Homo sapiens: one gene and its partners. The protein of the gene in region 1 purifies or fractionates together with the protein of each later gene. This does not show direct contact. Each region holds a gene or a part of one and is shown on either strand. Other genes may lie near its edges. The genes, in order: CHRM3, FARP2, FTSJ1, HEATR3, STX18, USP46 and NOCT.

Region 1 (4,050 bases):
CTACAATGTTTCTCGAGCAGCTGGCAATTTCTCCTCTCCAGACGGTACCACCGATGACCCTCTGGGAGGTCATACCGTCTGGCAAGTGGTCTTCATCGCTTTCTTAACGGGCATCCTGGCCTTGGTGACCATCATCGGCAACATCCTGGTAATTGTGTCATTTAAGGTCAACAAGCAGCTGAAGACGGTCAACAACTACTTCCTCTTAAGCCTGGCCTGTGCCGATCTGATTATCGGGGTCATTTCAATGAATCTGTTTACGACCTACATCATCATGAATCGATGGGCCTTAGGGAACTTGGCCTGTGACCTCTGGCTTGCCATTGACTACGTAGCCAGCAATGCCTCTGTTATGAATCTTCTGGTCATCAGCTTTGACAGATACTTTTCCATCACGAGGCCGCTCACGTACCGAGCCAAACGAACAACAAAGAGAGCCGGTGTGATGATCGGTCTGGCTTGGGTCATCTCCTTTGTCCTTTGGGCTCCTGCCATCTTGTTCTGGCAATACTTTGTTGGAAAGAGAACTGTGCCTCCGGGAGAGTGCTTCATTCAGTTCCTCAGTGAGCCCACCATTACTTTTGGCACAGCCATCGCTGCTTTTTATATGCCTGTCACCATTATGACTATTTTATACTGGAGGATCTATAAGGAAACTGAAAAGCGTACCAAAGAGCTTGCTGGCCTGCAAGCCTCTGGGACAGAGGCAGAGACAGAAAACTTTGTCCACCCCACGGGCAGTTCTCGAAGCTGCAGCAGTTACGAACTTCAACAGCAAAGCATGAAACGCTCCAACAGGAGGAAGTATGGCCGCTGCCACTTCTGGTTCACAACCAAGAGCTGGAAACCCAGCTCCGAGCAGATGGACCAAGACCACAGCAGCAGTGACAGTTGGAACAACAATGATGCTGCTGCCTCCCTGGAGAACTCCGCCTCCTCCGACGAGGAGGACATTGGCTCCGAGACGAGAGCCATCTACTCCATCGTGCTCAAGCTTCCGGGTCACAGCACCATCCTCAACTCCACCAAGTTACCCTCATCGGACAACCTGCAGGTGCCTGAGGAGGAGCTGGGGATGGTGGACTTGGAGAGGAAAGCCGACAAGCTGCAGGCCCAGAAGAGCGTGGACGATGGAGGCAGTTTTCCAAAAAGCTTCTCCAAGCTTCCCATCCAGCTAGAGTCAGCCGTGGACACAGCTAAGACTTCTGACGTCAACTCCTCAGTGGGTAAGAGCACGGCCACTCTACCTCTGTCCTTCAAGGAAGCCACTCTGGCCAAGAGGTTTGCTCTGAAGACCAGAAGTCAGATCACTAAGCGGAAAAGGATGTCCCTGGTCAAGGAGAAGAAAGCGGCCCAGACCCTCAGTGCGATCTTGCTTGCCTTCATCATCACTTGGACCCCATACAACATCATGGTTCTGGTGAACACCTTTTGTGACAGCTGCATACCCAAAACCTTTTGGAATCTGGGCTACTGGCTGTGCTACATCAACAGCACCGTGAACCCCGTGTGCTATGCTCTGTGCAACAAAACATTCAGAACCACTTTCAAGATGCTGCTGCTGTGCCAGTGTGACAAAAAAAAGAGGCGCAAGCAGCAGTACCAGCAGAGACAGTCGGTCATTTTTCACAAGCGCGCACCCGAGCAGGCCTTGTAGAATGAGGTTGTATCAATAGCAGTGACAAAACGCACACATCAACCCACAGACCTTAGGAGGAGGAAGGCGAGGGCGGGGTGACTTCTGGTGATGATAAAAATGGTTTTATCACCCAGATGTGAAAGAAGCTGCCTGTTTACTGATCCATTGAATAAACCCATTTTAATAGAAAAAGTCAATACCAATTCAGCAAAAAGAAAAAAAAAACATACTACTGAATATAAAGAAATTTATTCTGAAATAGACTTTACGTGTTTTTTTCTTAAAGAGGAGAAAAATATTGCTTGACGGCAATTATATACCCAAAGTGATTTGCCTGGGTCCTTTAATTCCCATTAGCTTTGGAATCTCAGATGAGCATAGCTGACCCAGTTCCCACATTCTTCCCAAGGATCCCAAAAGTGGGAATCCAGACCCCAAGTGGAACACTGCAGGCTTACGAATCTGTGGTTCCAAAATTATTTCATACGTTGCAAAGCTGAATCTTCTTGTCCCAATAGAGCTTCCTGTCTTTTCTTTGGTGTGTTGTTAAACTCTATTTGTGGACTTGATTCTTGATTCTTGCAAAGTACTGTTTTGTGCAGTTCAAGTTTCGTACAAATAAAAATACTTAAGTATATATATATGTGTGAGTTCTGCACGCACACACATAGTGTATATAATATCATGGGAAACACTGAACTGGCAAATTATTCCTGCAACATACGCTTTCAGTACTTTGGTAACTGAAGTTCTCTAGGATCCTAATGCAACATTAACGTGAAATAAGCCCAGTGTAATGTTTTTGAAACCAGGGCTGTTTTCCACAGAGAGCAGCCAGGCCTTCCCAGCAGGTCTGTGCAGAGCGGACAGGCTCGTGAGTCAGCTGAGCGCCGTGGCTTCGCCAGACTTGGTGTTAAGCAACCTCCTTTGTTGATGTCTCAACAGAGCTAAATCGGGGCCCCTCTGAGCTCAAAGAATGAACCACATCCACACGTTTGAATTTAATCATCTAAATCTGAATGTTTCAGAACAAAATTTCTGCTATCTAAACTGCTTGAAACTCAATAATAGTGTCACGTTTGAATGTCATACACAGCAATATATATATATGTGTATATATATATATATGGCAAAGCAAAAAAAAAAACATGGTAAGAGAGAATGAAGGAGAACATTGTGTTTGATTCTTGCTGAATGGCACCTTCTCAAAGAAAATAGGGCTTGCACCTTTGTTAATCAGCTGTGGCCAGTGCTTTCTGGTGTTCATTGTGTAACCTTCACCCAGGAATAGGTGAGGTTTTAGGAAGTTACATGTCCTCTGAAGAAAGAATTACACTCTGAAAAGTAATGCTTCAAATTGATTTCCTTACCTTTTGGGAAAAAAAAAAAATTGTTTTTTTGCATTCTCCCTTGAATTGACCAAAATGTTAACTGTTTCATTTGGGGAGGGGATGGGGTGCTGCCATCATTGTCGTTGTTGTTGCTGCTGTAGCTGTTGGGGTTTCTTTTCCTGTTGCCGGGGCTGTTTGGGGAGAGGGAGGGGAGGGAGGTGGGAGGGCCGCGGAGATATCTTCCCTTTGTACAGGGCATTCGTGTTGTGAACCCAGAGCTGGGTAGAAGCTGCTTTTGTATTCAGTGTGAGGTGGTGTTTACAGACGACTTTGACAACAGTAGAAGTGTACTCAGTGGTGTCTGTGTATCTGAACTATTTAATTTCGTGTTATGTTTATATGCAGAAATATTTATGGATACTACACCAAGTGTTTATTTAATGTTGATAAATATGACTCTTCAGTCGTCAGCCATGGTGTCCTTTCAAAGTGATTCTTTAAGGTCCACTTGAGCAATGAATAGAGTATATTGGAGCTTTCCTGTGGCTAAGAAGAAGAAACATGTCATCCTGTTGGCATCACCAAGCACCTAACTCTTTCTAGGTAATAAAAAGTCAACGGTCACTTCAACGTAAATGTTTAAAACCACTCTTTAGTTAAATCTGATGGGAACTGAACAAAGCTCCACCATTGTGTCTGAAATCATTTTACACAGGGAAAAAAAAAAACAATCAGCATAATTGTAAGAATGATTTTTTTGGGCCCACATTCAACCAAAGAACAAGAAAGAAACAGACGATTTTCTAATATGTACACAGCAAACTACAGAATGTCATATTATCCACCTGTGAAACATCTAGTAAGCAATTGCATCTATATTTTATTTCTCAAGTTGGCCTGGCACTAATAAATATGTGAAAGCTTATTCAAGTGTCCCAGTACTTCAGCACTTCCCATCCTTTTGGAAACTCCTATCTTGCCTCCCTCCCAAAAGGGCTGTTTCTTTTATTAAAAAAAAAAAAGAAATAGAATTAAATTTGAGAAAAGGAGAAACCCTGAAATTTAACAGAACTTTGAGAG
Region 2 (4,050 bases), on another chromosome or scaffold:
TCCTCCCTGTCAGTGATCTTCTCTCCTTGAGATCCTCCCTTCTTGTAATCTTCCCTCCCTGGGGTCCTCCCTCCCTCCCCAAGGTCCTTCCTCACTCCCTGTGGTCTTCCCTCTCTGGTGTCTTTCCTCCCTGTAGTCCTCCCTCCCTGGGATCCTCCTTTCCTAGGATCTTCCCTCCCTAGAGTCCTCCCTCCCTCCCTGGGATCTTCCCTTCCTGGGATCTTCCCTCATTCCCTGGGATCTTCCCTTCCTAGGATCTTCCCTCCCTCTCTGGCATCTTCCCTCCCTGTGGTCCTCCCTCCCTGGGATCCTCCTTTCCTAGGATCTTCCCTTCCTAGAGTCCTCCCTCCCTCCCTGGGATCTTCCCTCCATCGGCTTCTCCCTCCCTCCCTGAGGTCCTCCCTCACTCCCTGTGATCTCCCCTTCCTGGGATCTTCCCTCCCTGGGGTCCTCCTTCCCTAGGATCTTCCCTTCCTGGAGTCCTCCCTTGCTCCCTGTAGTCCTCTCTCCCTGGGATATTCCCTCCCTGGAGTCCTCCCTCCCTGAGGTCCTCCCTCACTCCCTGTGATCTTCCCTTCCTGGGATCTCCCTCCCTGGGGTCCTCCTTCCCTAGGATCTTCCCTTCCTGGGGTCCTCCTTTGCTCCCTGTGGTCCTCCCTCCCTGGGATTTTCCCTCCCCATGGTCTTCCTCCCCCAGGGCCCTCCCCCAGTAGGGTCCTCCTTCCCTGAGATCCTCTCTCCCTGGGGTCCTCCCTCCCTGGAGTCCTTCCTCCCCCAGTGGGGTCCTCCCTCCCTGGGGTCCTCTTTCCCTGTTCTTTCTTCAAGGGTCTTATCCCTCTGCACTGCCTCCTCCTGACAATGAGCGCCAAAACCCTCAGGCAGGTGTTTGTAAAATTTAATTCCACTTCTCAGGCCCTCAGCAAGAAGAGGTCAGTTTGAATTAGCTCATCTGCCACCACCGGAAGCAGACCCCATTTGTTTTAAAGTATACTTTTAAAAATTACACCTTTATTATAGAAAAAAATAATTGAAAGTATAAGACAGAAATCACTCATCACTGGCCAGTTGCTGTGGCTCACGCCTGTAATGCCAGCACTTTAGGAGGTCAAGATGGTAGGATCGCTTGAAGCTGAGAGTTTGAGACCTGCCTGGGGAACATGGCGAAGCCAAATCTCCAAAAATCTTTTTTTTTTTTTTTTTTTTTTAATTAGCTGAGCAAAAGTGGTGTGTGCCTGTAGTCCCAGCTACTTGGGAGGCTGAGATGGGAGAATCACTTAAGCCCAGGAGGTCAAGGCTGTAGTGAGCCGTGATCGTACCACTGCACTCCAGCCCCAGTGACAGAGTGAGACCTCGTCTCAAAAAAAAAAAAAAAAAAAAAAAAAACACAGAGAAAAGAAACAAGAAAAAGAACTCTATCATCGTACCCACTCAGCAGTGATGGCTGCAGGCATCTGCTGCATGGTTGCCATCACCCACGGGCTGTTTTGTCAGGACACTGGTTTTCCTTTCCTTTCATGGCAGCCCCAGTTCACTTAACTAGTCACCTGTCACTGGACGCTTGGCTGTGGCTGGTTGTTGAGGACTGTAACATTGTTGGATCTCTGTCTTTCTGCACATCCTTAATTATGTCCTTCAGATCAATTCCAAAATGTAGATTTGTCTGAGCAAAGGTGTTTACGGCCTTGGGCACTCCTGCTAAATTGCTGTTGGAGCACCTGCGCCAGCTGACCTTCCCACCTGCAGGAGCTAGGTCTAAACATGCATCTTTCCCTCCACCATGGAAAGTGCTAGGCACCTGTCTCTCTTACTCTTCCCAAGTGGGTAAGGTAAGCAGCCCCATCGAGCAGCCCCATCATTTCACTTTGCATCCCTGCGGACTGTCGGTGAGGCCAGCCTGGCCCCTGTGTCCTGGCATTCCATGCTTTTCCTCTCAGGAATCACTCAGCGTGCTGGTCACTCTGGTCTCCATTGGTCTGTGAGTTTTTTGTACACATTAGTGAAATGTTTATATGATAATGCTCACCAACACTATTAAGTCACAAATTATTTTCTCAGTAACTGCTTTTTACTTTGCCTACAATTTAGTTTTACCTTGTAGAATTTAAACTCCATCTTGATGGGTTCTGTTTCTCTTACTCTAGAATGGCATCTGGCACATATAGGGAACCCAGCAAATGCTTGTTGAAGGTGTGAATTGAAACAGACACTCCTCAACTTATGATGGGGCTATGCCCTGATAAACCCATTGTAAGAGGAAAATAGTATAGTCAAAAATGCATTTAACAGGGCACGGTGGCTCACGTCTGTAATCCCAGCACTTTGGGAGGCTGAGGTGGGTGAATCACCTAAGGTCAGGAGTTTAAGACCAGCCTGGCCAACAGGGCGAAACCCTGTCTCTACTAAAAATACAAAAATTAGCCAGGCGTGGTGGTGGGCACCTGTAGTCCCAACTACTCGGGAGGCTAAGCACAAGAATCACTTGAACCTGGGAGGCGGAGGTTGCACTGAGCCGAGATCACACCACTGCACTCCAGCCTGGGTGACAGAACAAGACTCCCTCTCAAAAAAAAAAAAAAGAAAGAAAAGAAAATGCATTTAATACACTTAACCTCTCTGATGTCATAGCTTAGCCTAGCCTACTCTTTTTTTTTTTTTTTTTTTTTGAGATGGAATCGCTCTGTCGCCCAGGCTGGAGTGCAGTGGTGCCATCTTGGCTCTCTGCAAGCTCCACCTCCCGGGTTCACGCCATTCTCCTACCTCAGCTTCCTGAGTAGCTGGGACTACAGGCGCCCGCCACCACGCCTGGCTAATTTTTTGTATTTTTTAGTAGAGACGGGGTTTCACCGTGTTAGGCAGGATGGTCTCGATCTCCTGACCTCGTGATCCACCCGCCTCGGCCTCCCAAAGTGCTGGGATTACAGGCGTGAGCCAGCCTAGCCTACTCTAAATGTGCTCAGAACATACATTAGCTTACAGTTGGGCAAAATCATCTAATATGAAGCCTATTTTATAACAAAGTGTTGAATATCTCACATAATTTGTTGAATACCAAACTGGAAGTGAAAAACAGAATGGTCGTATGGGCACTTGAAGTTCCGTTTCTACTGAATGCTTATCACTTTCACACCATCATAAAGTTGAAAAATCAGGGCCTATCAGGGTCAGCTCTGGCTGTCTTTTCCTTGAGGGTTTCTATCCTTAGTATGGGCTCAGGAAGTTCTTCCCCATGCCAATATTATATTGGCACCTTTTAATGGTTTCAGTTTTCTCATTTAATTAATCTCCCTAGAATTTGTTTTTTTACTTTTTTGGTTTTTTTTTTTTTTTTTTTAGATGGAGTCTTGCTCTGTGTCCCAGGCTGGAGTGCCCAGGCACGATCTCGGCTCACTGCAAACTCCGCCTCCTGGGTTCACACCATTCTCCTGCCTCAGCCTCCCAAGTAGCTGGGACTACAGGTGGCTAATTTTTTGTATTTTTAGTAGAGACGGGGTTTCACCGTGTTAGCCAGGATGGTCTCGATCTCCTGACCTTGTGATCCGCCCGCCTCGGCCTCCCAAAGTGCTGGGATTACAGGTGTGAGCCACCGTGCCTGGCCTAGAATTTGTTTTGATAGATATTAGATTGAGATGTAACATTTCTCCCCATTATTTGTTGAATCCTTCATTTTCTCACTGATCTCAGACTTTATCAAATGGAAGCCTGTGTCTTTGCACTCGAGTTCTTTCTGGGCATTCTGCTCCATTCCTGTCTGTCCAGCATCAGTCCACTCTCTCTCATTAGTGGTGTCATATGAGATAGTCACTGTTTGGTGAACACATTCCATCCCTTATTCTGCCTCCTTTTAAAAAAGATTCTTTGCTATTCTCAAGCATTTAATTCTTCCAAGTAATCTTCTAAGTCATTGGACAAATTCCTTACAAAAACACCATGGAGATTTCAGTTGAAATTGCATTAAATTTTTGTGTTAACTTACGGGAAGACTAACATCTGGACAATGTTTTGCCTGCCCTTGCTTATGTTGATTCAGATTTTTGATGTCCAGTGAGAGGC
Region 3 (4,050 bases), on another chromosome or scaffold:
AAGGAGATCCGCCCCCAGGACTGCCCCATCAGCAGAGTGGACACGTTTCCCCAGCCCCTGGCCGCCCCTCAGTGCCACACCCTGCTGGCCCCTGAGGTCTGGAAATGTGACTCTCAGCCTGCCTTGACCCCTTCCCCGTGTGCCTTTTTCTGACCCAAATCTCATGGTTTCTGGGGCCAAAATTCCCTTTCCTGCCTCCCAATAGCTATAAAAAATTGGTAAAGCCAAGCATAATGAATGGAAAAGTTTCGCCAAATATGTGAGTCACTTTTCTTTTTCTTGGGTAGATGGAAGACAATGAAATGAGTTGTTCACCTTAACCCATTACGGTAAGTTTGCCTTGTTATCTAAGAGTTTGAGTAAGGGCAACCTTTATGAAAAACCTCAGTAAAATTTCACCTTTGAAATTTTTATGTCAACTGATAAGATTTTAATCAACAAACCCTTTTCTAAACATCTGTTGTTGTATGCCAGGAACTGCTTTAAGCATTTTACATTTGAGGCATTCAGTAAACATTTATTGAGCACATACTGTATGTCAGGTGTTGTTCTAGGTTTGGAGATAGAGCAGGGAGCAAAACAGAAATATCTTGGCTCTCACAGTACTTCCAGTTTGGAAAAGAGGCAACAATCAAAACAGTCTGTAAGTGCAAGAGTTTACATACACATATATACTATATAGCTTGCATTTCTCAATTTACATATCTTGCAATATATATAATATATAAGAGTAATATGGGATATAAAAAATAGAAAAAAGTAAAGCAGGGTGAAGAGAATCAGGAATTCTAGGCATGGCAGTTTTCATCTTTTGGTGTTTTTGTTTTGAGACAAGGTCTCACTCTGTCGCCCAGGCTGGAGTTCAGTGGTGTGATTTCCCGGGCTCAAAAAATCCTCCCACCTCAGCCTCTCAAGTAGCTGGGACTACAGGCATGTACCACCATGCCTAGCAAATTTTTGTATTTTTAGGGGAGATGGAGTTTTGCCATGTTGCCCAGGCTGGTCTCGATCTACTGGGCTCGAGCGATCTGCCATCCTCGGCCTCCCAAAGTACCAGGATTACAGGCATGAGCCACTGCGCCCAGCCAGTTTGCACTTTTTAAAAGGGTTGTCATAGAAGGCCTCAGACATTCCTCAGAGGTAATGTTTGAGCAAAGACCTGAAGGCACTGCCGGAGGGAAGCCATGTGTTTATCTGAGGGAAGAGCATTCTGGGTAAAGGAAATAGGCATGTCCCAAAGGTGGAACTGCACGTGGTATGGGAGGAAAGTTTATCCATAGCCAAATGTTCTAAAACCACGATGTTAGAGGATGGCCCTTTCTGACAATGGCATAGCAGGTTATTCAGACTAAGTCAGCCATCACAAAAAGCCACCTTTTTTTTTTTCTTGAGACAGAGTCTTACTCTGTTACCCAGGCTGGAGTGCAGTGGCATGATCTCAGCTCACGGCAACCTCCATCTACCAAGTTCAAGCGATTCTCCTGCCTCAGCCTCCCAAATAGCTGGGATTACAGTGCCCGCCACTATGCATGGCTAATTTTTGTATTTTTAGTAGAGATGGGGTTTTGCCATGTTGACCAGACTGGTCTCAAACTCGTGACCTCAGGTGATCCACCTGCCTCGGCCTCCCAAAGTGTTGGGATTACAGGTGTGAGCCACCACACCTGGCCTTTTTTGTTTTGTTTTTTGTTTTGTTTTGAGAACAGAGTCTCGCTCTGTCGCCCAGGCTGGGTGGAGTGCAGTGGCACTATCTCAGCTCACTCCAACCTCCGCCTCCCGGGTTCAAGAGATTCTCCTGCCTCAGCCTCCTGAGTAGCTGGGATTACAGACGTGTGCTCCCACCTCACCCGGCTAATTTTTGTATTTTTAGTAGAGACGGGGTTTCACCATGTTGGCCAGGCTGGTCTCAAACTCCTGACCTCACAAAATCTGCCTGCCTCAGGCCTCCCAAAGTGCTGGGATTACAGGCCTGAGCCACCACACCTGGCCACAAGAAGCCACCTTAAGAAAAAATTGAAACAGCAAATCATTGTGTGAAAGAGATTTACAGTTTTTAATATTTAAAGGGTCCTGTAAATCAATAAGGAAAAACATGAGAGTGGCCAGTAAGCACATGAAAAGCTGCTCATCAGGAAAATACAAGTGAAAACTCAAAATATCAACAACACTAAGTATTTGAAAGGATATGCAGCAATTGAAAGCCTCGTACATGCTACTGGGAAGGTAAAATGGTGCAGCCACTGTGGAAACTTAGGCATTACCTACTAAAGCTGCATGTGTGCCAGTTCCACTCCTAAGAAATGAGTCCTAGAGGCCGGGTGCCGTGGCTCAACGCCTGTAATCCCAGCACTTTGGGAGGCCGAGGTGGGTGGATCACCTGAGGTCAGGAGTTCAAGACCAGCCTGACCAACATGGCAAAACCCCATCTCTACTAAAAATACAAAAATTAACCGGGCATGGTGGCGGGCACCTGTAATCCCAGCTACTCAGGAGGCTGAGGCAGGAGAATCACTTGAACCTGGGAGGTGGAGGTTGCAGTGAGCTGAGATCGTGCCACTGCACTCCAGCCTGGGTGACAGAGTCAGACTCCATCTCAAAAAAAAGGAAATGAGTCCTAGAGTGTTGCTAGCAGCACTATCTATAGTATATGCCCATTAAATCGTGGTACATTCACCGTGGAGAACTGTACAACAATGACAGTGAACATCCTGCAATTACACCAAATAACACCTTGTAGTTATTCATTAAACTGAACATATATAGGTTTTATGCATTTTCTATATGTCATGGTTCACCATAAAAGGAGGAAATGTCACAAAAATGTTAGCAGCAGAGTTAGCTAGGTGTGGTGGCACATTCCTGCCTGTAATCCCAGCTACTTGGGAGGCTGAGGTGGGAGGATCACTTGAGCTTGGGAGGTTAAGGTTGTCGTGAGCTATGATGGAGCTCCACTGCACTCCAGCCTGGGTGACAGAGCAAGACCCTGTCTCTAAAAAAACAAAACAAAACAAAAAAACTTTCTTTGACTTTTGGTTAGCTGGCAAACTGATACAACTCAGAAACTGCTCAATGTCAGGAAAACCGGAACTTGTTGATGAACTTGTTTTCAAAATATCATCTCATCAACGAGGCCTGGACAAACAAGCCCTGAGGAGGGATCTGCAACAACCCTGAAGACAACAAGGAAAGAAACCATGAAAGTCTGTCTGTACTGCAGTGGGAATTCTTGAGTGAGGTCTTACCTCTTCTTTAAACCTCTTCAGGAGTGTCCTGATTATGTCCAGAATTTTCCCTAAAGGCAGGGATTCTTAACCTGGATAGAAGCCAGGGGTAACCATGAACTTGATGGAAGAAAATGTTACATCTTTATTTTCAGCAATGAAACTGAAATTTAGCCTTACTCCCAAGTTATAAATGCTGGCAACAAATCACAGTAGTAAAAGCAGTACCTGGGATTTTCCCACCAATACAAACCAGTTACAGCAACTGTAATGTAACATAAAAAGGGCATCTTGAAGTATTGTTCATATTTGTCACCTCTTGGAATGATAGCAGATCCTGTAAGTTGATGTATTAATTAAAAAGCCCATATATTACTGCATCTCAATTTTGTTTCAATTTAATATATAGTAATAATTGTAATTCAATGTAATTGGCTTCCATTGTAATTGTGTGTGTGTGTATGTGTATGTATATACTTTTAAAAATATTCTGTGAAGGGGTTCACAGATTTAACCAGATGCCAAAGGGTTCTGCAGAACAAATTTATTTATTTATTTTGAGACAGAATTTCGCTCTGTCACCCAGGCTGGAGTGCAGTGGTGTGATCTTGGCTCACTGCAACCTCTGCCTCCTGGGTTCAAGCGATTCTCCTGCCTCAGCCTCCCGAGTAACTGGGATTACAGGCACCCGCCACCACACCCGGCTAATTTTCGTATTTTTAGTAGAGACGGGGTTTCACCATTTTGTCCAGGCTGGTCTCGAACTCCTGACCTCAGGTGATCCACCCACCTCGGCCTCCCAAAGTGCTGGGATTACATGCGTGAACCA
Region 4 (4,050 bases), on another chromosome or scaffold:
GCACAGTGGTACAATCTCGGCTCACTGCAACCTCTGCCTCCTGGGTTCAAGGGATTCTCCTGCCTTGGCCTCCCAAGTAGCTGGGATTACAGGCATGCACCGCCATGCCTGGCTAAGACCTTGTCTCTACAAAAATTAAAAAAATTAGCCAGGCATGGTGGCATGCACCTGTAGCCCTAGCTACTCAGAGGCTGCGGCAAGAGGATTGCTTGAGTCCAGGAATTTGAGGCTGCAGTGAGCTATGAACGTGCCACTGCACTCCAGCCTAGGCAACAGAGTGAGACTCTGTCTCTAAGGGGGAAAAAAAAAGACAATTGAAAACTGAAGTTTGGAAATATTCAAATAGTAAAATATACATTATTTTTAGCTCATGTACTGTTTTGGAATATCAGTATGGTTATTTCACTTTCCATAGACAATTTGATAATTAAGGTTATATAAATTTATATTACCCATTTTAAGAAATGTTGGTTGATAATGTTAAGTTTAAGTTGGCGTTATATATTTTCAGAGAAAAAAAAAGCTTCCTTCTTTCTTTAGTCTTAGAGAAATGCTTTATTATAGTCTTTACAGAAAGGCAGGAAGCAAGTCTGTCTGCTCCATAGCAAGTTCTACAGGTCACATAAGGGCTCGTTAGTAGTGTGTGTTAGCGCAGCCATTCCAAGAAAGACATCTAAGCTAAGCATCTAAAAGCAGGTTTGGTGTTTCTAAGTGCCTGGTGTCTGAAATGAACTCTTGTTTAAATCTTAGTATGCCCAGCTACTTCTTGACACAGTAGATAAGTTTCAGGGTGAATTCTGTTCAGAATTCCTGAATATTTGTCTGTTCTCTCCAGCTAACTAAGTGACGCTTGGGGAATAGCCATGCAGATAGATGGAAACCCAGTTAACGGGGGCATGCTCCACTGTACCAAGAGGAATTATAATGCTCGTTTGTACTTCTGGCACTTCATGACTTTTCTTTTACCTACCCCATTCCCCGTGTGCTCTATTCCAAGCGCAAAAATCTTCTAGTAGGCTTTCACTAAGGAAATTCCCCAAAAACATTTTCCCAACCATTGAGAGTTGGTCATTTACTTTTTTTTTTTTTTTTAAGCCCACTGACAAGGAACTGAGAGAGACTATAGCATTGCTGACAGCCCAACAGACTGCTCTGGAAATTATTGTCAACATGTGCTGCAATGAAGGTTTGTTAACATTTACATTTAGACATTTTCCCCCTGAGCCAAGAGGGAAACTCCCGTGGAGATTTTCTTAACTATTCCAGTTCTGCGTGGTTTGCCCGCTTCCCAGATCCCTCTGATGACGAATGGGAAGAGCTTTCTAGCAGTGATGAAAGTGACGCATTTATGGAGAATTCCTTCAGTGAGTGCGGGGGACAGCTGTTTTCTCCCCTCTGCCTCTCCCATGAAGTTCACACGGCTCTCACCAACTACCTCATCCCAAAGAAGGTAATCCATTTTCATTCTAGGCTTACCGTGGAGCATGGGAAAGGCTTAAGCAAGGTATTCATTTTGTGTACAAAAGAAGCAAGCTCACACTTCCAGGTTGTAGATGGTGGTAAGATCTGAGACAAAGCTGAGCCTAACAGTACTGGAAATAGGCGAAAAGGTCATTCTATATGAAGCCTAACCATTTCACTTAGGAGTAATATGTTGGAATTATGTAAGGGAATCGTGTTAAATGACTACTCTTTAACCTTTGCTTTACTGCCTCTTTTAAATCTAGATTTTTGAGAAAACTGCCTTTCCAAACAGCATTGCAGTTGACCTATGTTCTAGGAACCCTACTTGGAAACCTTTGATTAGAAAGTAAGAACTCTTCTGCTTTCAAAAACATTTGTCATTATTTTATTTTATGAAATGATGGGCTATTAAATAGAAGGTGCTGACTCCCCCTAGGACCCAGAAGTTTTGTTCCTGGGTATATATACCAGAAAAATATGTGCCCACATGCCCTAGAATACATGTATATGAGAGTGTTCATAGCAGTGTGTGTCACAGTTGCCCCAACCCATAAACAAACGTGTTGTCCATCAGAGTTAGAATGGTAAATAAATTTTGACAAAATCACGCAGTACAATACATGCAGCAGTAAAAGGGATCTGAATTAGAGCTACTCACAACTCGGATGGAACTTACATTGTTGAACCAAAAAAGCGAGACATAAAAGAATACACACACTGTGATTCAGTTTTTACAAAGTTGAGAAACAGGCAACATTGAACTATTTTGTTCAGGGATGCATACCTTGGTGATAAACCTATTAAAAAAAAAAAGAGGCAAGGAAATGTTTACCATAGAAGTCTGTATGGTGCTTACCTGTAGGTGTCAGGGAGGTGGGATATTATATGGAAGAGATACAGGGGCTTTCAGGGTCCAGCAGTGTTAATTTCTTTCCCAGGTGCATGGGTTTTGGTTTCATAGACTGTTTGTTAAACTCTCTATGTATGTTGTGTACTTAACTGTATATATGTCACATTTCACAATTAAAAATAATTTTAGGCTGGGCATGGTGGCTCACACCTATAATCCCAGGACTCTGGGAGGCCAAGGTAGGAGGATCACTTGAGGCCAGGAGTTTGAAACCAGCCTGGGCAGCATAGCAAGACCCCATCTCTACAAAGGAAAAAAAAATACAAAAATTAGCCTGGCATAGTGGCACTCAGCTGTAGTCCTAGCTACTTAGGAGGCTGAAGTGGGAGGATTGCTTGAGCTCAGCAGTCTAAGGCTGTAGTGAGCTATGATGGTGACACTGTACTCCAGCCTGGGAAACAGAATGAGACCCTGTCTGAAGAAAATTATAATTTTAAGGATGCTACCCTACATAGAAATTTTTCTAAAACATATTCCTCATGACTCATGAATGAGTTGTGTATCAGAGGCCGTGAATATTCAAGCAGTTTGATTTGGCAGATTAACAGTTCACCTTATAATTCTAGCACTTTGGAAGGTACAGGCAGGAGGATTGTTTGAGGCCAAGAGTTCCAGAGCAGCCTGGGCAACATAGCAAGACCCCTATCTACAAAAAATAAAAAACTTAGCCAGGTGTGGTTGCATGCACATGTAATCCTGCTCCTTAGGAGGCTGAGGCAGGAGGATCACTTGTGCTCAGGAGGTTGAGGCTACAGCGAGCTGTGATCACACCACTGCACTCCAGCCTGGGCAACAGAGTAAGACCCTGTCTAAAAAATGATGATAAATTTTAGAAAACACAAAAAACAGTTCACCTTGTGATTCTTTGCTAACTGCCATAGATACCTTGTATTTACAGATATTTCCAGTCAGAACGTGAAGCTTAGGCTAAAAGTTAATACTGAATTCTGATGGGCAACTTCTGGAGAATCAGATGGCATTGTTTCACTTCCTTTCCAGAATGAACACTATTCAGTGCAGAGCCCTCTTCTGTCTCCAGAGTCTTGTGTCCCTCCTGGATGTGGAGCACCTGGGAGGAGCCGCAGCCCTTCAGACGCTTGCACAGCATCTGTCACAGCTGCTTTTTTCTCAACCAGGTATTTAGACTTTATTGCGAAAGACTACGCAGACGGAACAGAATTTTGAAGGGGCAGGAATTTGGATTTTGTAAATGTATATTGTTTGTCATCCAATGTGCAGAAACCTTTCCCAGACACAGGAATCATGTATTTATAGTTGCCATGGGGTACAGAGTCAAAACGAGGTATGCAAGCAGCTCCTGGGCTTATAATTTTCTTTTTTGTTAAAATTGTTTGCATCCAGTTATATCAGGCCAGTCAAGGCTGTATCATAAATATCATAAAGGCCTCATTAAGGTATTTGGATAATTCTCAGCCAAGCACGGTGGCTCATGCCTGTAGTCCCAGCACTTTGGGAGGCCGAGGCGGGAGGATCACCTCAGGTCAGGAGTTGGAGACCAGCCTGGCCAACATGATGAAACCGCTCTACTAAAATACAAAACTTTAACTGGGCGTGGTGGTGGAGATGCCTGTAATCCCAGCTACTCGGGAGGCTGAGGCAGGAGAATCGCTTGAACCCAGGAGGTGGGGATTGCAGTGATCTGAGGTTGTGCCATT
Region 5 (4,050 bases), on another chromosome or scaffold:
CATTGAGAAAGCAAATTGGAGTCTGTGTTTCTTCCCCTTGAACTCCAGTGGACCATCGTGAATGTGTTGGGCAGTAGAATATGGCCAGAATTATGATTTCTGACTTCTAAGGCTAGGTCATGAAAGGCACTGAAGCTTCCACCAAAGTCTTTAAGACTGCCAGCCCTGCAGGCAGCCAGCTGCCATGCACCAGTAACACACTCATGCAGCTCCATGAAGAAGAAATGAGGCTCCCAGCAAGCACCAACTTGCTAGCCATGTGTGTGGCCTCCTTGGAAGTGAACCCTCCAGCCCTGGTCAGCCCTTCAGATGACTGCAGCCCTAGTTGCCTTCTAACTGCACCCTCCTGAGACACACAGAGCCAGAACCACCCAGCCAAGGTGTTCCCAAATTCCTGACCCCAGAAGCAGTGATCAGTAATAAATCTCACTGTTTCAAGGCACTAAGTTTTATGACTCAGCTGTAGTAACCAGAACAATTAAAAAGATTGATAACAGTGACTTTTGAAAAAATTTTTTGTTAAATTTTGTAGAGGACCATTTCCTAAATAGTCTTTTTGAGAAAACTGCTCTCAAAAAACTCTGTGAAGAGAGTGTCTGCAATCAGGTTATTTGCAAATACCATCCTTTTTGGAAATTCAAAATGTATTTGAGCATATTAAAGGCTCTGAAAACTTATATAGTGAAACACCTTTCTAGCTTTGACTCAGCTTTCTCAGACTGATTCGACCACAGAAGTCCTTTCCCACAGCCCAGGATGGGTAGAATATACCCCACATGGAGCAGTTGTTACGAGCATGGGCTTCAGAGCTAGGTTCCCTGAGGTCATGTCCCAGCCCAGCCATTTGCTGACTGTGACCTGGGCAAGTTTCCTAACTTCTCTACACCTCAGTTTCCTCCTTTGTTAAAAGGTTGTTAATACTAGTACCTACCTGATGGGGATATTCGAAATTAAATAAATTTATCCATACAAATTGCTTAGAAAAAATGTCCACTATATGAGCCATTAACAAATGTTAGCTGGCATTAGTAATATCACCCTAATATGCATTTACATTGTTCCTTTAATTACAGTCTCTCTGCCTAACAATATGGAATTTATCCTAGATAGCACTCTGCCTATAATTTTATAGCATTTATGTAGATTCTAGTAAAGCTATTACAAAGCCTGTTATTGCATAACCTAAACGTTTTCTTATTAACCAGTTACTTGTATTTATAATGCACTCATTCATTCAACATATATTTATGCAATGGAATACCAGGCACTAATCCAGAATCTGGGATCTAGGAGCAAGGCTGACAACCAACAGATAAATAAACAGGGGGATTATAGACTGTGATAACTGCTATGGAGAAAACAGATGCAGAGGAGTGGGAGGCGGCCTTTCCTTCACAGAAGAGTCAGAGGTGGCCTCTCTGAGTAGGTGAAATTGAGCTGAGCCCTGTAGATGGGAAGGAAGACGATGCCCTGGGAAGAGCCCGTGGGGAAGAAACAGGGGAATGCCAAGTGCAGAGGACTCAGTCCTGAAACAAGTCTGTGCCTTCAAGTGGGTATTTAAGGACTTGTGCTTTCAGAGCTAACTTATATTAAGATGTGACTTAGAACATATACGTGTGTGGGTATAGGTATATATATGTGTGTGTATGAGTATATATGTTGGGGGGTATGTGTGTGGGGGTGTGTGTGTGTATATATATGGGTAGGGGGTATATATGTGTGTGTTTCTGTGTGTGTATGTGGGAGTATATGTGTATGTATATGTGGGGGTATATATGAGTGTGTGTGTGTATGTATATATGTGTATGTAGATATATGTGTGTGGGGGAGGGTATATGTGGGGGGTATATATACATATCTGCACATATATGGTGTGTGTGTGTATGTAGGGGGTATATATGTGAGTGGGGGGTATATATATGTAGTATATGTATGTGGGTGTGTATATATGGTATGTGTATATGTGTGGGTATGTGTGTGTATATATGTGTGTGTGTTTATGTGGGTGAGTATATGTGAATATATGTATGTGGTGTGTGTGTATATGTGGGGGATATACATGCATGTATGTATATATATGGGGTATGTGTGTATGTAGGGGGTTATATATGTGTGGGGGGTATATATATGTGGTATATATATTGTGTGTATACATGTGGGGGTATGTGTGTGGGGGTATATGTGTGGTGGTATATATGTGTGTGGGTATATATGTGGGAGGGTATGTATATATGTGTGCATGGGTATATATATGTGGTATATATGTGTGTGTGTGGTGTGTGTATATGTGTGGGTATACATGTGTTGGGGGTATATATGTGTGTGGGGGTATATATATATATATGAATATATGTATAATATGTATTATATATTATTATTAATAACATACTCAGCAATCTTTTTGCATTAGTGTCAACTACTGGGTAAGCATCAATCCAGCTTCCTGGGTTTGTTGAGTGCGGTGTGTCAGTCTATGGAGCGTATTCAGCACATACCAACTGCAGCCTCCCCCTGCATGCTGGTCACTGTGCCGTGGCTGCAAATGCAGAGGGCATGCACAATCTCTACCCTGCAGGCAATAATGCCAGTGTTAAGTGCCCCAGTGGAGGTGTGTCCGGATGGCCACTGGGCCCAGAGGCAGTGACTGCTCCCCAGTACAGGGACACAGAGCAAAAGCGCAGGGTCACATGTGACTCCTTCTGTTTTCAAAAAGGAATCCTGTTATGGAAATAAAATACCTGCCTGCTAATTATTTATTTTTAGATCTAAGCTGGAACCAGAACCAAATACAAAGACAAGAGAATCCACATCTTCTGAGAAAGTTTCACAGAGTCCTTCAAAAGACTCTGAAGAAAACCCTGCCACTGAAGAACGTCCAGGTACGAATTGAGATGAAAATCTCACCTTGCATTTCTTCCTTGTGACATGTTGGCAAGAGTACAGCACAGGAACGAAGTAGCACAGTCTCAGACATGTTTTGGTGTTTGTATTTGCATAAAGCAAAGGAAGCAGGAGGCGGCAGCCTTTGTGTCTGTCACAGTTGATCTTCGTGAGTGCCACAGAGGCAGGGGGTGCATTCACCCAGTCACCTGGGAGCTGGCGGGGTCCGGGAGAAAGGGCCTGCTGGAGGGGTGAGGCCGGGAGCTGTCTGCCTCAGGAGCCCTGTGTGCCGGCCTCAGGAGAGGCAGCATTGCCTCCCTGGCAGCCATGCCCTGCATGTCAGCTCTGAGCTGCCAGGCCTGCATCCGGGTAGAGTGTATAACCTCAGCAGCCTTGCACAGCCAGTCAAACCAACAGGACAAAATGCAAATCTGAATTGACGTGCTGCCTATCACCACAGATACTAGAGGGCCCATGGCTTAGAATAGTTCCTGATGCACAGGAGATGCAGAAGAAATACAGGGTCTCCATGAAGTCCGAAAATGTAGGGGGACATACACAGTGTGGTCATGGATGTCTGCGATCTGTGTGTCTGGCTGGTACCCCTGCGTAGGGATGCCTGCATAGTTTGCCATATCTCAAAGGCAGAGTGGAGCAGGGTTCTTTGTGTGAATCACAGGGTGATGGCGTGCTGGAGCCAGGAGAGACCTGGGAGTCCCCTTTAGCATCCTTCTCCGTAGTCTCATGGCAGTTCTTATTAACTCTTGTCTTCCAGATGCTAGGCATGGTCCTGGACATGTCACAGAAATTACAGGTTGAGTATCTCTTATCTGAAATGCTTGGGACCAGAAGTGTTTTGGATTTAGGGTTTTTTCAAATTTTTGCATATTTGCATTGTCCTTACCAGTTGAGCATCTCTAATCTGAAAACTAAAATCTGGAAAGCTCCAATGAGTATTTCCTTTGGGTGTCACATTGGAGCTCAATAAGTTTCAGGGATGTGATTCCTGCCCTCAGGGAGCTCACAGTTGATGGGAAAGATAAGGCTCTAGCCCCTGGGAGAAAGTAAGTAGTACCTCAAGAGAGAGCAGAGGGCCAGGGAGACTTCAAGAGGAGGTGGCACTAAGAAGTGAGTCTGGGCCAGGCGCAGTGGTTCACACCTGTAATCCCA
Region 6 (4,050 bases), on another chromosome or scaffold:
AATAATAGAGTGAATACTCGTGTACTCCCCACCCAGTGAAGAAATAAAATACTATATATACATTTAAAACCACCTATGAGTCCTTCCTGATCTCATTGCCTCTCCCCACAGAGTGACCACTATTCTGCATTTAGTGTTTATTGTATATTTTTATATTTTTACTAGATTTGTATGCATTCATAAACTAGATATAGTGTATTTTTTCATGTTTTAAACATGCTTTATAATATTAAACATTCCTCTCAGTTTGCTTTTATTGTTTAAATTGTGATTTTGCTATTTATCCATTGAGAGACACATAATCCTAGTTTATTTTAACTGCTGTATAACATTCCATTATATAAATATGCTATGACACATTCATTTTAATGTTGTAAGCAGGTTTACAAATTTGTGAGTGTGCTGTTTTAATGCAATGAACAGTTGTGAACTCATCTCCCTGTGTATAGTATACACAGTTGACAGTTGACAGTTTCTCTGTGGTGTAAACCTGGAAGGGAATTGCTGGGTCAAAGGAATTTGATCGTCTTCTTTAATAAGTTGCCTGATTGCTCTCCAAAGAAGTTATGCCAATTTGCATTCCAACCAAGCAGCGTTTGGGGGTTCCAGTTGCTTCACATGTTTGCAGATATTTGATATTGCTAGACTTGATGTTTTGCCAGTCTGATGGGTGTGACATTGTGCCTTTGTGGTTTAAAATTTGCACTTTTCCTGTTTGCTAGGGGAGGTTGAACATCTTTTCATGTGTTTGTTATGCTGGTTTGTTTTCAACTCAGGGGCCTGAGAACAGTTTTCCAGGTCTTGAAAGTCAGGATTGTAGTTTTGGTTTTGTCTGAAAACAGGGACAATGAAGAAGGGACAGTGAAGAGGAAAATCAAGGAGACCAAAGCAAAAGTCATGAAAGGTAGGGATGGATTGGAAGATGCAGGTGAAAAAAATGATGACAAGATAATCACTGTGGAGGGGTGAAAACTAGTAACAAAAAGATAATAGAGTAGCACTGAGAAGATACCTTGAATTTTGAGAGTAAATTTGGGAGACCTGCCTGTGCCAGCAAGGCCTTGTTCAAGCCACATTTGCTTTGTTTAATTGACATTGGCTTTAGTGAAAATCGTGTCTGGGGCCTGTTCTGGTGAGAACAGCAGCAAAGCTGGACTTGCAGAGTTTTCCTGTTTACCCAGTTGCTTTTTCAAGTTCTTTTAGAAAGGCATTGTGAAACGATGGTCATCTTCCTAAAATACATTTCTCTGTCCTTCAGGTTAGGTACACAGTGCAGGAAAATTTTTATCTGGATCTGCTTGAATATATACTGGTGGAATTACTGTCTTAAATATTTAGAAAGTATTCTCTACACTTCATTTTAATTTTCAGAGTATGATGAGTATTACCTCATTAAACAAAGAAATGTATGGTTTTAGGTTCTTTGGTGTACCAAAGAATGGTTCCCACATGTGCATTCTCTTATTAAAAATTTAGACTCTGGGGTTCAACACCCAGAGAGTTTGATTAAGTAGGTCTTAGTTGGGGCTCTGGAATCTGCCTTTTAAATTAGTGTTCCCTCCTCCTTCTACTCCCTCCACATTCTGTTATAGGTGAGCTGAGGACCATGCTTGGAGAAATATTGCTTCCCTTGGGTAATAACCTCAGCCTCTTAAAAAATATTGCTTAAGAAATTACCTGCCATGTGAAAGTTTTTAAAAAAATGAATGTAAAATTATTTAAGCTAGTAACTTAACTTTTTCTGTTCTTTTTTCTCTTTCTTTCTTTTTTTTTTTTTTTTTTGAGATGGAGTCTCACTCTGTTGCCAGGCTGGAGTACAGTGGCATGATCTCAGCTCACTGCAACCTCTGCTTCCAGGTTCAAGCGATTCTCCTGCCTCAGCCTCCTGAGTAGGGTACTACAGGCACGTGCCCCCTTGCCCAGCTAATTTTGTATTTTTAGTAGAGACAGGGTTTCACCATGTTGCCTGGGATGGTCTTGATCTCTTGACCTCGTGATCCGCCCACCTTGGCCTCCCAAAGTACTGGGATTACAGGCGTGAGCCACTGCACCCGGCCAACTTAACTTTTTCTTGGTATTAAATAGCCAGGTTTTGTATTAGTTTATATATTCAGAACAGAGATTTTCAGCACTGGCTTTATATCATATCACCTGTGAAGCTTTTAAAAGAAATTTTAAAAATAATAATTAAATCACAAAACATTAACATACAAAAAAGCATGAAAAAATAATGTTATATATGTTTACCTACCCTTCAGATTTAACAGATATTAAAATGTAGCCATATTTGGTTACTTTTATTTTTAGACATATTACTGTAAAAACAGCACTAACTCTTTTTAGACTCTTTTACCTTAAAAACAGACACTAACTCAACCCAATCTCTTTCCTTTCTCTTCCTCCCAGAGCAAACCATTTTCCTGAAGTTGATATGGTGTTTACCAAACATGTCTTATACTTTACTTTGTATTTATGAATTCATAAGCAATGGATTGCAACGTTTGTGTGTGGATAAAATCGTGTAGCTTTTTGCAACTGTCTTTCTTTACTCAACAAGTATATTTGAGATTATGTCAACACATAGAGGTCGAGTTTATTCATTCTGACTGCTCTGTAACAGGATTCTTTGACTTAACCATGGTTTACTTATTCATTCTCTTATTTAGGGGCAGTTTGGTAGTTTCTACAATATTCTCTCTGGAAACAGTGTTGCAGCGAATGTTCTTGCTTCTGTCTTCTTTGCTCAGGTGTCTTCATTTCTTTAGGGTATAATCCTGGAAGTCAATATGCTGCTTTTAGGATGCGCCCATCTGCAGCTTTGCTAGGTGTGTCAAATTGCTCTCCAAAGTGGTTCCACCAATTGGAGCTTTATTGACATGCAGTTTCTAGGGTCCCAGTCTCCAGCGTTTCTGACAGTATGTAGATATAGGTAGTCTGGGGTGAATTTTAGGCACCTGCGTGTGTATGTGTGTGTGTGTATTTTAAGTGCCACAGTTGATTCCGATGTGAGCATCCAAGGTTGATAAACCACCATGTTAGACTGACAACTCTATGAGGGCAGGAACTGTATTTATTTGTATTATTCAGTGTTGATTTCCCAGCTGTCAGCACAGTGCCTAGCACATATGTGGTTGGTGCTCAATAAATAAATATTGATAAATGAATGAAGGGATGTAATTTGGTAGAATGGAAGAATTGCCTTGGAGTAAAGCAGTATGCCTCCAATTTTATCATGCATAGGCATTAGCTGGAGGTCTAGTTGAAATGTCAATTTGGATTCAGCACGTCTGGGGCAGGGCGGAGATTTTGCACTTCTAACAAACTCTCTGGTGGTACAGATAATGCTGGTTTCGGGACCATTTTTAGAGCAGCAAGGCTTTGGGAAAAACAAAACAACTTCTATTTTCCATATAGTTGTAAAGTGGAGGAGTTTGGAATTCAGAATCCTGTTTGGTAAATCTCAGATCCTATTTATCTTTTTACAACAAAGGTAGTCAATGAAATACCTTCTTTAAAGCTTTTTGGGGAGCATCAGAAGAGATCCTGCCCATGGAAGCACTGTGTGAGCTATGATGCCTTCATGCTTGTTAGTTTTCATAATTATTCTCACTCTTTTAGTTCATCATTATTTTCCTTCTGTTTGCTCAAAGTGCAAAGCTGTTGGTATTTCAGGATCCAGTGAAATTCTACTTCCATTTTGACCTGCTGTCCACATTTAGTGGGGCACTTTGGGAGGAGTGACATTGGGGAAGGAAGTTGGCAAAAGCAGAGGCCAAATTCACAGCATGGTTTGGTTCTGACTGGGTGCTGTGGTGGTGAGGGGGCCCTGTGGCCCTGTTTCTGTGGTATTGGGAGACACGGGTAGAGAGAGGCCCACAGGACTCTTCTAATCATTGCTGTAGTGGATGACAGGACAACAGGAAACTGTCTAATTGGGTTCCCAAGTCAGATACTTTTCAAAGAGAAAAGAATGCTCAGAGTAATTATAAAATATTAATTGATCTGTAGGTGTAATCTGAGCTATTCAGGGCAAACTAGAGGTAGGTCCCT
Region 7 (4,050 bases), on another chromosome or scaffold:
AGACAGGGTTTCACCATGTTGGTCAGGCTCCTCTCGAACTCCTGACCTCAGGTGATACACCCGCCTTGGCCTCCCAGAGTGCTGGGATTACAGGTGTGAGCCACCACGCCCGGCCACTAATTAGAGTTTATAGGGCTTTGATAGCCACTTAAGTGGTGGTTATACTTCAGTAGATAATTAGAAATTTGAAGGACAGTGTGCCTGGGCGTTTAGCCTCATAGTAAACCTGTTTGGACTTCCACGGAAAGCAGCTAAGATACTTTTTATTTATTGTTATTCTTAGAATGGGAGAAAATCAGCCTTCCCACGGAGGGAGTGAGACCTCAAGTGAAAACCTTAGCTGTCCTCTGTATCTATGTGGCCTCAAAGCAACACTTGAATCATATATTAATACTTAGCAAGAATTCAGTGTCAGGTATGTGGGCAACAGTGCCCAGGGGAAAGAAGGCTAAACAAAATTGGTACCATCCAATTTGAATGTCCTTATAACAATTTTTTTCTCCTTCCAGTATATAAAAAAATGCGTGGGTCCCATTCAGATCTTCTGGATTTTAATATCTCCAAGTGGGGCCTGAGCATCTGCTGATTCTGACATAGGCTCCGGGTAGACAACAGCCACATATTGACAACACAGGCGGACACCTGTGAGGAGGCTCGTTTTACTAAATGCTTAGAAGCCTATTCTAAGTCTCTCAGTGATGTGATTCTCCTGTCCAAAAGTTAGAGACCACTGTTGGATTGTGGAGAGTTGTGCAGAAAGGAAAATATTTATTTTATTTATTGTAGAGACAGGGTCTCACTGTGTTGCCCAGGCTGCTCTTGAGCTCTTGGCAAGTCCATGAAAATAAGTGCTTAGAAGTTACGATGCTGCCCGGGTACCGTGGCTCATGCCTGTAATCCCAGCACTTTGGGAGGCCAAGGAGGTGGGGGGAATCACTTGAGGTTAGGAGTTCGAGACCAGCCTGGGCAGCATGGCAAAAACCCCATCTTTATGAAAAATGTAAAAATTAGCCGGGTGTTGGTGGTGTGTGCCTGTAATCCCAGCTATTCGGGAGGCTGAGGCAGGAGAATTGCTTGAACCAGGGAGGTGGAGGTTGCAGCTAGCTGAGATCGTACCACTGTACTACAGCCTGGGCAACACAGCAAGACTCCATCTCAAAAAAAAAAAAGAAGTTATGATGCATCCAAAGTGACAATAAGAATTGTTCCGGAAGGATATCTGGGAAATTCCTTGGTCTTGATGCATCCTTTCTAGCTGTCTTCCTTTCCCTTTTCTATCTTTCCTCCAACTCTGAGGTTCCAGTACTTAAACAGCTCTGTTTGCCGATCTGCAAATATGCTTGTGACTGCAAATATCTTGTCTAGTACAGGGTGCAAAGTAAGTTACACTGCAGATTCTAATAATACCTGGGATATAATACTTTTCTATTTCCTCTTGTGTGTTTTGCTTTTATGGATGCTAATTATCATTGAAGGTCTGCTGAAGGAAAATGTTTATCTTTCAAATCTTGTAGGTCAAATAGACTCTCTGAGACTTAGTTCTAGAATTAGTTTAATATTTTATTTTTTTGAGATGGAGTCTTGCTCTGTTCCTCAAGCTGGAGTACGATGGCGCGATGTCAGCTCACTGCAACCTCCGTCTCCCGGGTTCAAGCGATTCTCCTGCCTCAGCCTCCCGAGTAGCTGGGGATTACAGGCCCCTGCCACCATGCCCTGCTAATTTTTTGTATTTTTAGTAGAGACGGGGTTTTGCCATGTTGGTCAGGCTGTTCTCGAACTCCTGACCTCAGGTGATACACCCGCCTCGGCCTCTCAAAGTGCTGGGATTACAGGCACCATGCCCGGCCTTGCCTCTGAACTTTTAAAGACCATTGTGAGTATTGATTATCTGTAGAAGCTTACAAGATTTCCTTATCTTTGGTATTCAAAAGATCCATCAGGTTGAATGTCTCAGCATCTGATGCGCCCATCCAATCTAAAGACATGCCTTAGCACATTAAAAGTTTGTATCGGTTGTCTACTGTATTGTCTCTTGTTCTCATGTTCTTGAACTCCTGTTAGATTGTTGGCCATATGGATCTATCCTCCGTGTCTATTCATCCTTTTTTTTTTTTTTTTTTTTTAAATTATTTTAGAGACAGAGTCTCCACTTTGTCACCCAGGCTGGAGTGCACTGGTGTGATCATAGCTCACTGTAACCTCCAACTCCTGGGCTGAAGTGATCCTCCCACTTCAGCCTCTGAAGTAGCTGGGACTATAGGTGTGCTCCACCATGCCTACCTACTTTTATTTTTTTGTAGAGACACGGGTCTCAGCTCAGACTGGTCTCAAACTCCTGGGCTCAAGCAGTCCATCTGCTTCTGCCTCCCAAAGTACTGGATTACAAGCATGAGGCACCTAGCCAGGCCTCCATTCATATTTTAGTGTTTTTATCTCTTCTCTGTTGCATGAGATTTTCTGAAAATTTTTGTTCTGCAGTCATTTTAAATTCCTAGACATTTCTAGTTGTTTAATTGCTCCTTTTTTCATAGAAACCTGTTTTGTGTCTATAATGTCTCTCGTACTTTAAATATATCAAGATGTGTGTGTGCCTGTTTCTCCTTTAGGCCTCTTTCCTGGAGAGGAAGGGAGTTTTGCATGTTGTTTTATTTGTTTGTTTGTTTTTTGAGATGGGGTCTCGCTCTGTCACTCAGGCTGGAGTGCTGTGGCGTGATCTCAGCTCACTGCAGCCTCCATCAACCTGGTTCAAGCACTCCTCCCACCTCAGCCTCCCAAGTAGCTGGGACCACAGGCATGCACCATCATGCCTGGCCCAGTAATACAACAGTTACTGTATTTTTAGTAGAGACAGGTTTTCCCCGTGTTGGCCAGGCTGGTCCCAAACTGCTGAGCTCAAGTGATCGGCCCACCCCGGCATCCCAGAATACTGGCATTACAGGTGTGAGCCACCGCGCCCAGCCAGTTTTGCATGTTCTGAGTGGGAAGGTAATCTGGAGAACGGGCAGCCAGGCTTCCTTGTTGAATGCGTGAGAGGGAGCAGGCTGGTAACTACCGCCTTTGTCAAAGAAAGGAGGGTTTCCTTCTATATTCTTCAGTCCAACCCCTTCCCCGCTTTTTAAAACCATCCTTGAGTTTCAGAGTTAGCTCCTGATCTGGTCTGCTTCTCTTTCAGGTCCATTCACCTTTGCAAGCCATTCTAAGGCTATCACCCATTTTCTTTGGGGTATTCTTTGGTTCTATGGAGCAACCAAAAGCCACCCTTCCCGGCTTTGTCTGTGAGAGAGGGGACACATGTAACTAGTGCCACCGTTCACTTTCATTCTTGAACGAATTGCCCTAACAGTTACCCCCTCAGCTTCTCCTGCCCTTTCTATTTCTTGATTCAGCTTGGAGTTTCTTCAAGGTGCTCTTGGGAAAACCACATTTACCTTTGGTAACTTGTACTGCCCTTTCCTTCTGGTTTCTCTGTTAATTCAAACTTGTTTCTGTCTTCTTGGAATTCCTCCAAATATTTGCTCCATTGATGTCATGCATCCCTTCTTGTTTTCCAATGTTATTGATGCATTCTTTAAAAAATTTTAAAGAGGCCAGGCGCGGTGGCTCACGCCTGTAATCCCAGCACTTTGGGAGGCCAAGGCGGGCAGATTGGGAGTTCCAGACCAACCTGGCCAGCATAGTGAAACCCTGTCTCTACTAAAAATACAAAAATTAGCCATGCGTGGTGGCGGGTGCCTGTAATCCCATCAGCGACTCAGAAAGCTGAGGGAGGAGAATTGCTTGAACCTGGGAGGCAGAGGTTTCAGTGAGCCGAGATGGCGCCATTGCACTCCAGACTAGGCAACAGAGCGAGACTCCGTCTCAAAAAAAAAAAAAAAATTTAAATATAGGCACTTTATTTCTTCAAGATCTTAGGAAGGAGAGAAAGTAAATGTATTTTCTACTTTGCTGTCTTGGCCTAGAACCAACCTGCCCAATGATATGCAACATATTCTTTTTTTAATATGTGCCTTAACTATTCAAGCAATGCACTGGGAATTTGTATATGAAAAT

Evidence for each region.
Region 2: the proteins of CHRM3 (region 1) and FARP2 purify together in Homo sapiens (affinity purification with mass spectrometry; 2 studies listed by BioGRID and IntAct, with this or other methods). This does not show direct contact.
Region 3: the proteins of CHRM3 (region 1) and FTSJ1 purify together in Homo sapiens (affinity purification with mass spectrometry; 2 studies listed by BioGRID and IntAct, with this or other methods). This does not show direct contact.
Region 4: the proteins of CHRM3 (region 1) and HEATR3 purify together in Homo sapiens (affinity purification with mass spectrometry; 2 studies listed by BioGRID and IntAct, with this or other methods). This does not show direct contact.
Region 5: the proteins of CHRM3 (region 1) and STX18 purify together in Homo sapiens (affinity purification with mass spectrometry; 2 studies listed by BioGRID and IntAct, with this or other methods). This does not show direct contact.
Region 6: the proteins of CHRM3 (region 1) and USP46 purify together in Homo sapiens (affinity purification with mass spectrometry; 2 studies listed by BioGRID and IntAct, with this or other methods). This does not show direct contact.
Region 7: the proteins of CHRM3 (region 1) and NOCT purify together in Homo sapiens (affinity purification with mass spectrometry; 2 studies listed by BioGRID and IntAct, with this or other methods). This does not show direct contact.

The regions. Positions count from the first base shown.
Region 1 is NC_000001.11:239,907,568-239,911,617, forward strand, and holds part of CHRM3 (muscarinic acetylcholine receptor M3), read left to right. Parts: coding exon 1-1,657; 3' UTR 1,658-4,050.
Region 2 is NC_000002.12:241,485,105-241,489,154, forward strand, and holds part of FARP2 (FERM, ARHGEF and pleckstrin domain-containing protein 2), read left to right. Parts: intron 1-4,050. UniProt on the Homo sapiens protein: Functions as a guanine nucleotide exchange factor that activates RAC1. May have relatively low activity. Plays a role in the response to class 3 semaphorins and remodeling of the actin cytoskeleton.
Region 3 is NC_000023.11:48,482,699-48,486,748, forward strand, and holds the end of FTSJ1 (tRNA (cytidine(32)/guanosine(34)-2'-O)-methyltransferase), read left to right. Parts: coding exon 1-96; coding exon of another isoform or gene 97-153; exon of another isoform or gene 154-256; intron 257-287; coding exon 288-320; 3' UTR 321-329; intron 330-542; exon of another isoform or gene 543-643; intron 644-3,037; 3' UTR 3,038-3,652; downstream 3,653-4,050. UniProt on the Homo sapiens protein: Methylates the 2'-O-ribose of nucleotides at positions 32 and 34 of the tRNA anticodon loop of substrate tRNAs. Requisite for faithful cytoplasmic translation.
Region 4 is NC_000016.10:50,082,842-50,086,891, forward strand, and holds part of HEATR3 (HEAT repeat-containing protein 3), read left to right. Parts: intron 1-1,095; coding exon 1,096-1,186; intron 1,187-1,266; exon of another isoform or gene 1,267-1,292; coding exon 1,293-1,450; intron 1,451-1,727; coding exon 1,728-1,810; intron 1,811-3,373; coding exon 3,374-3,510; intron 3,511-4,050. UniProt on the Homo sapiens protein: Plays a role in ribosome biogenesis and in nuclear import of the 60S ribosomal protein L5/large ribosomal subunit protein uL18 (RPL5). Required for proper erythrocyte maturation.
Region 5 is NC_000004.12:4,437,223-4,441,272, reverse strand, and holds part of STX18 (syntaxin-18), read left to right. Parts: intron 1-2,763; coding exon 2,764-2,879; intron 2,880-4,050. UniProt on the Homo sapiens protein: Syntaxin that may be involved in targeting and fusion of Golgi-derived retrograde transport vesicles with the ER.
Region 6 is NC_000004.12:52,648,824-52,652,873, reverse strand, and holds part of USP46 (ubiquitin carboxyl-terminal hydrolase 46), read left to right. Parts: intron 1-4,050. UniProt on the Homo sapiens protein: Deubiquitinating enzyme that plays a role in behavior, possibly by regulating GABA action. May act by mediating the deubiquitination of GAD1/GAD67.
Region 7 is NC_000004.12:139,021,944-139,025,993, forward strand, and holds part of NOCT (nocturnin), read left to right. Parts: intron 1-4,050. UniProt on the Homo sapiens protein: Phosphatase which catalyzes the conversion of NADP(+) to NAD(+) and of NADPH to NADH. Shows a small preference for NADPH over NADP(+). Represses translation and promotes degradation of target mRNA molecules.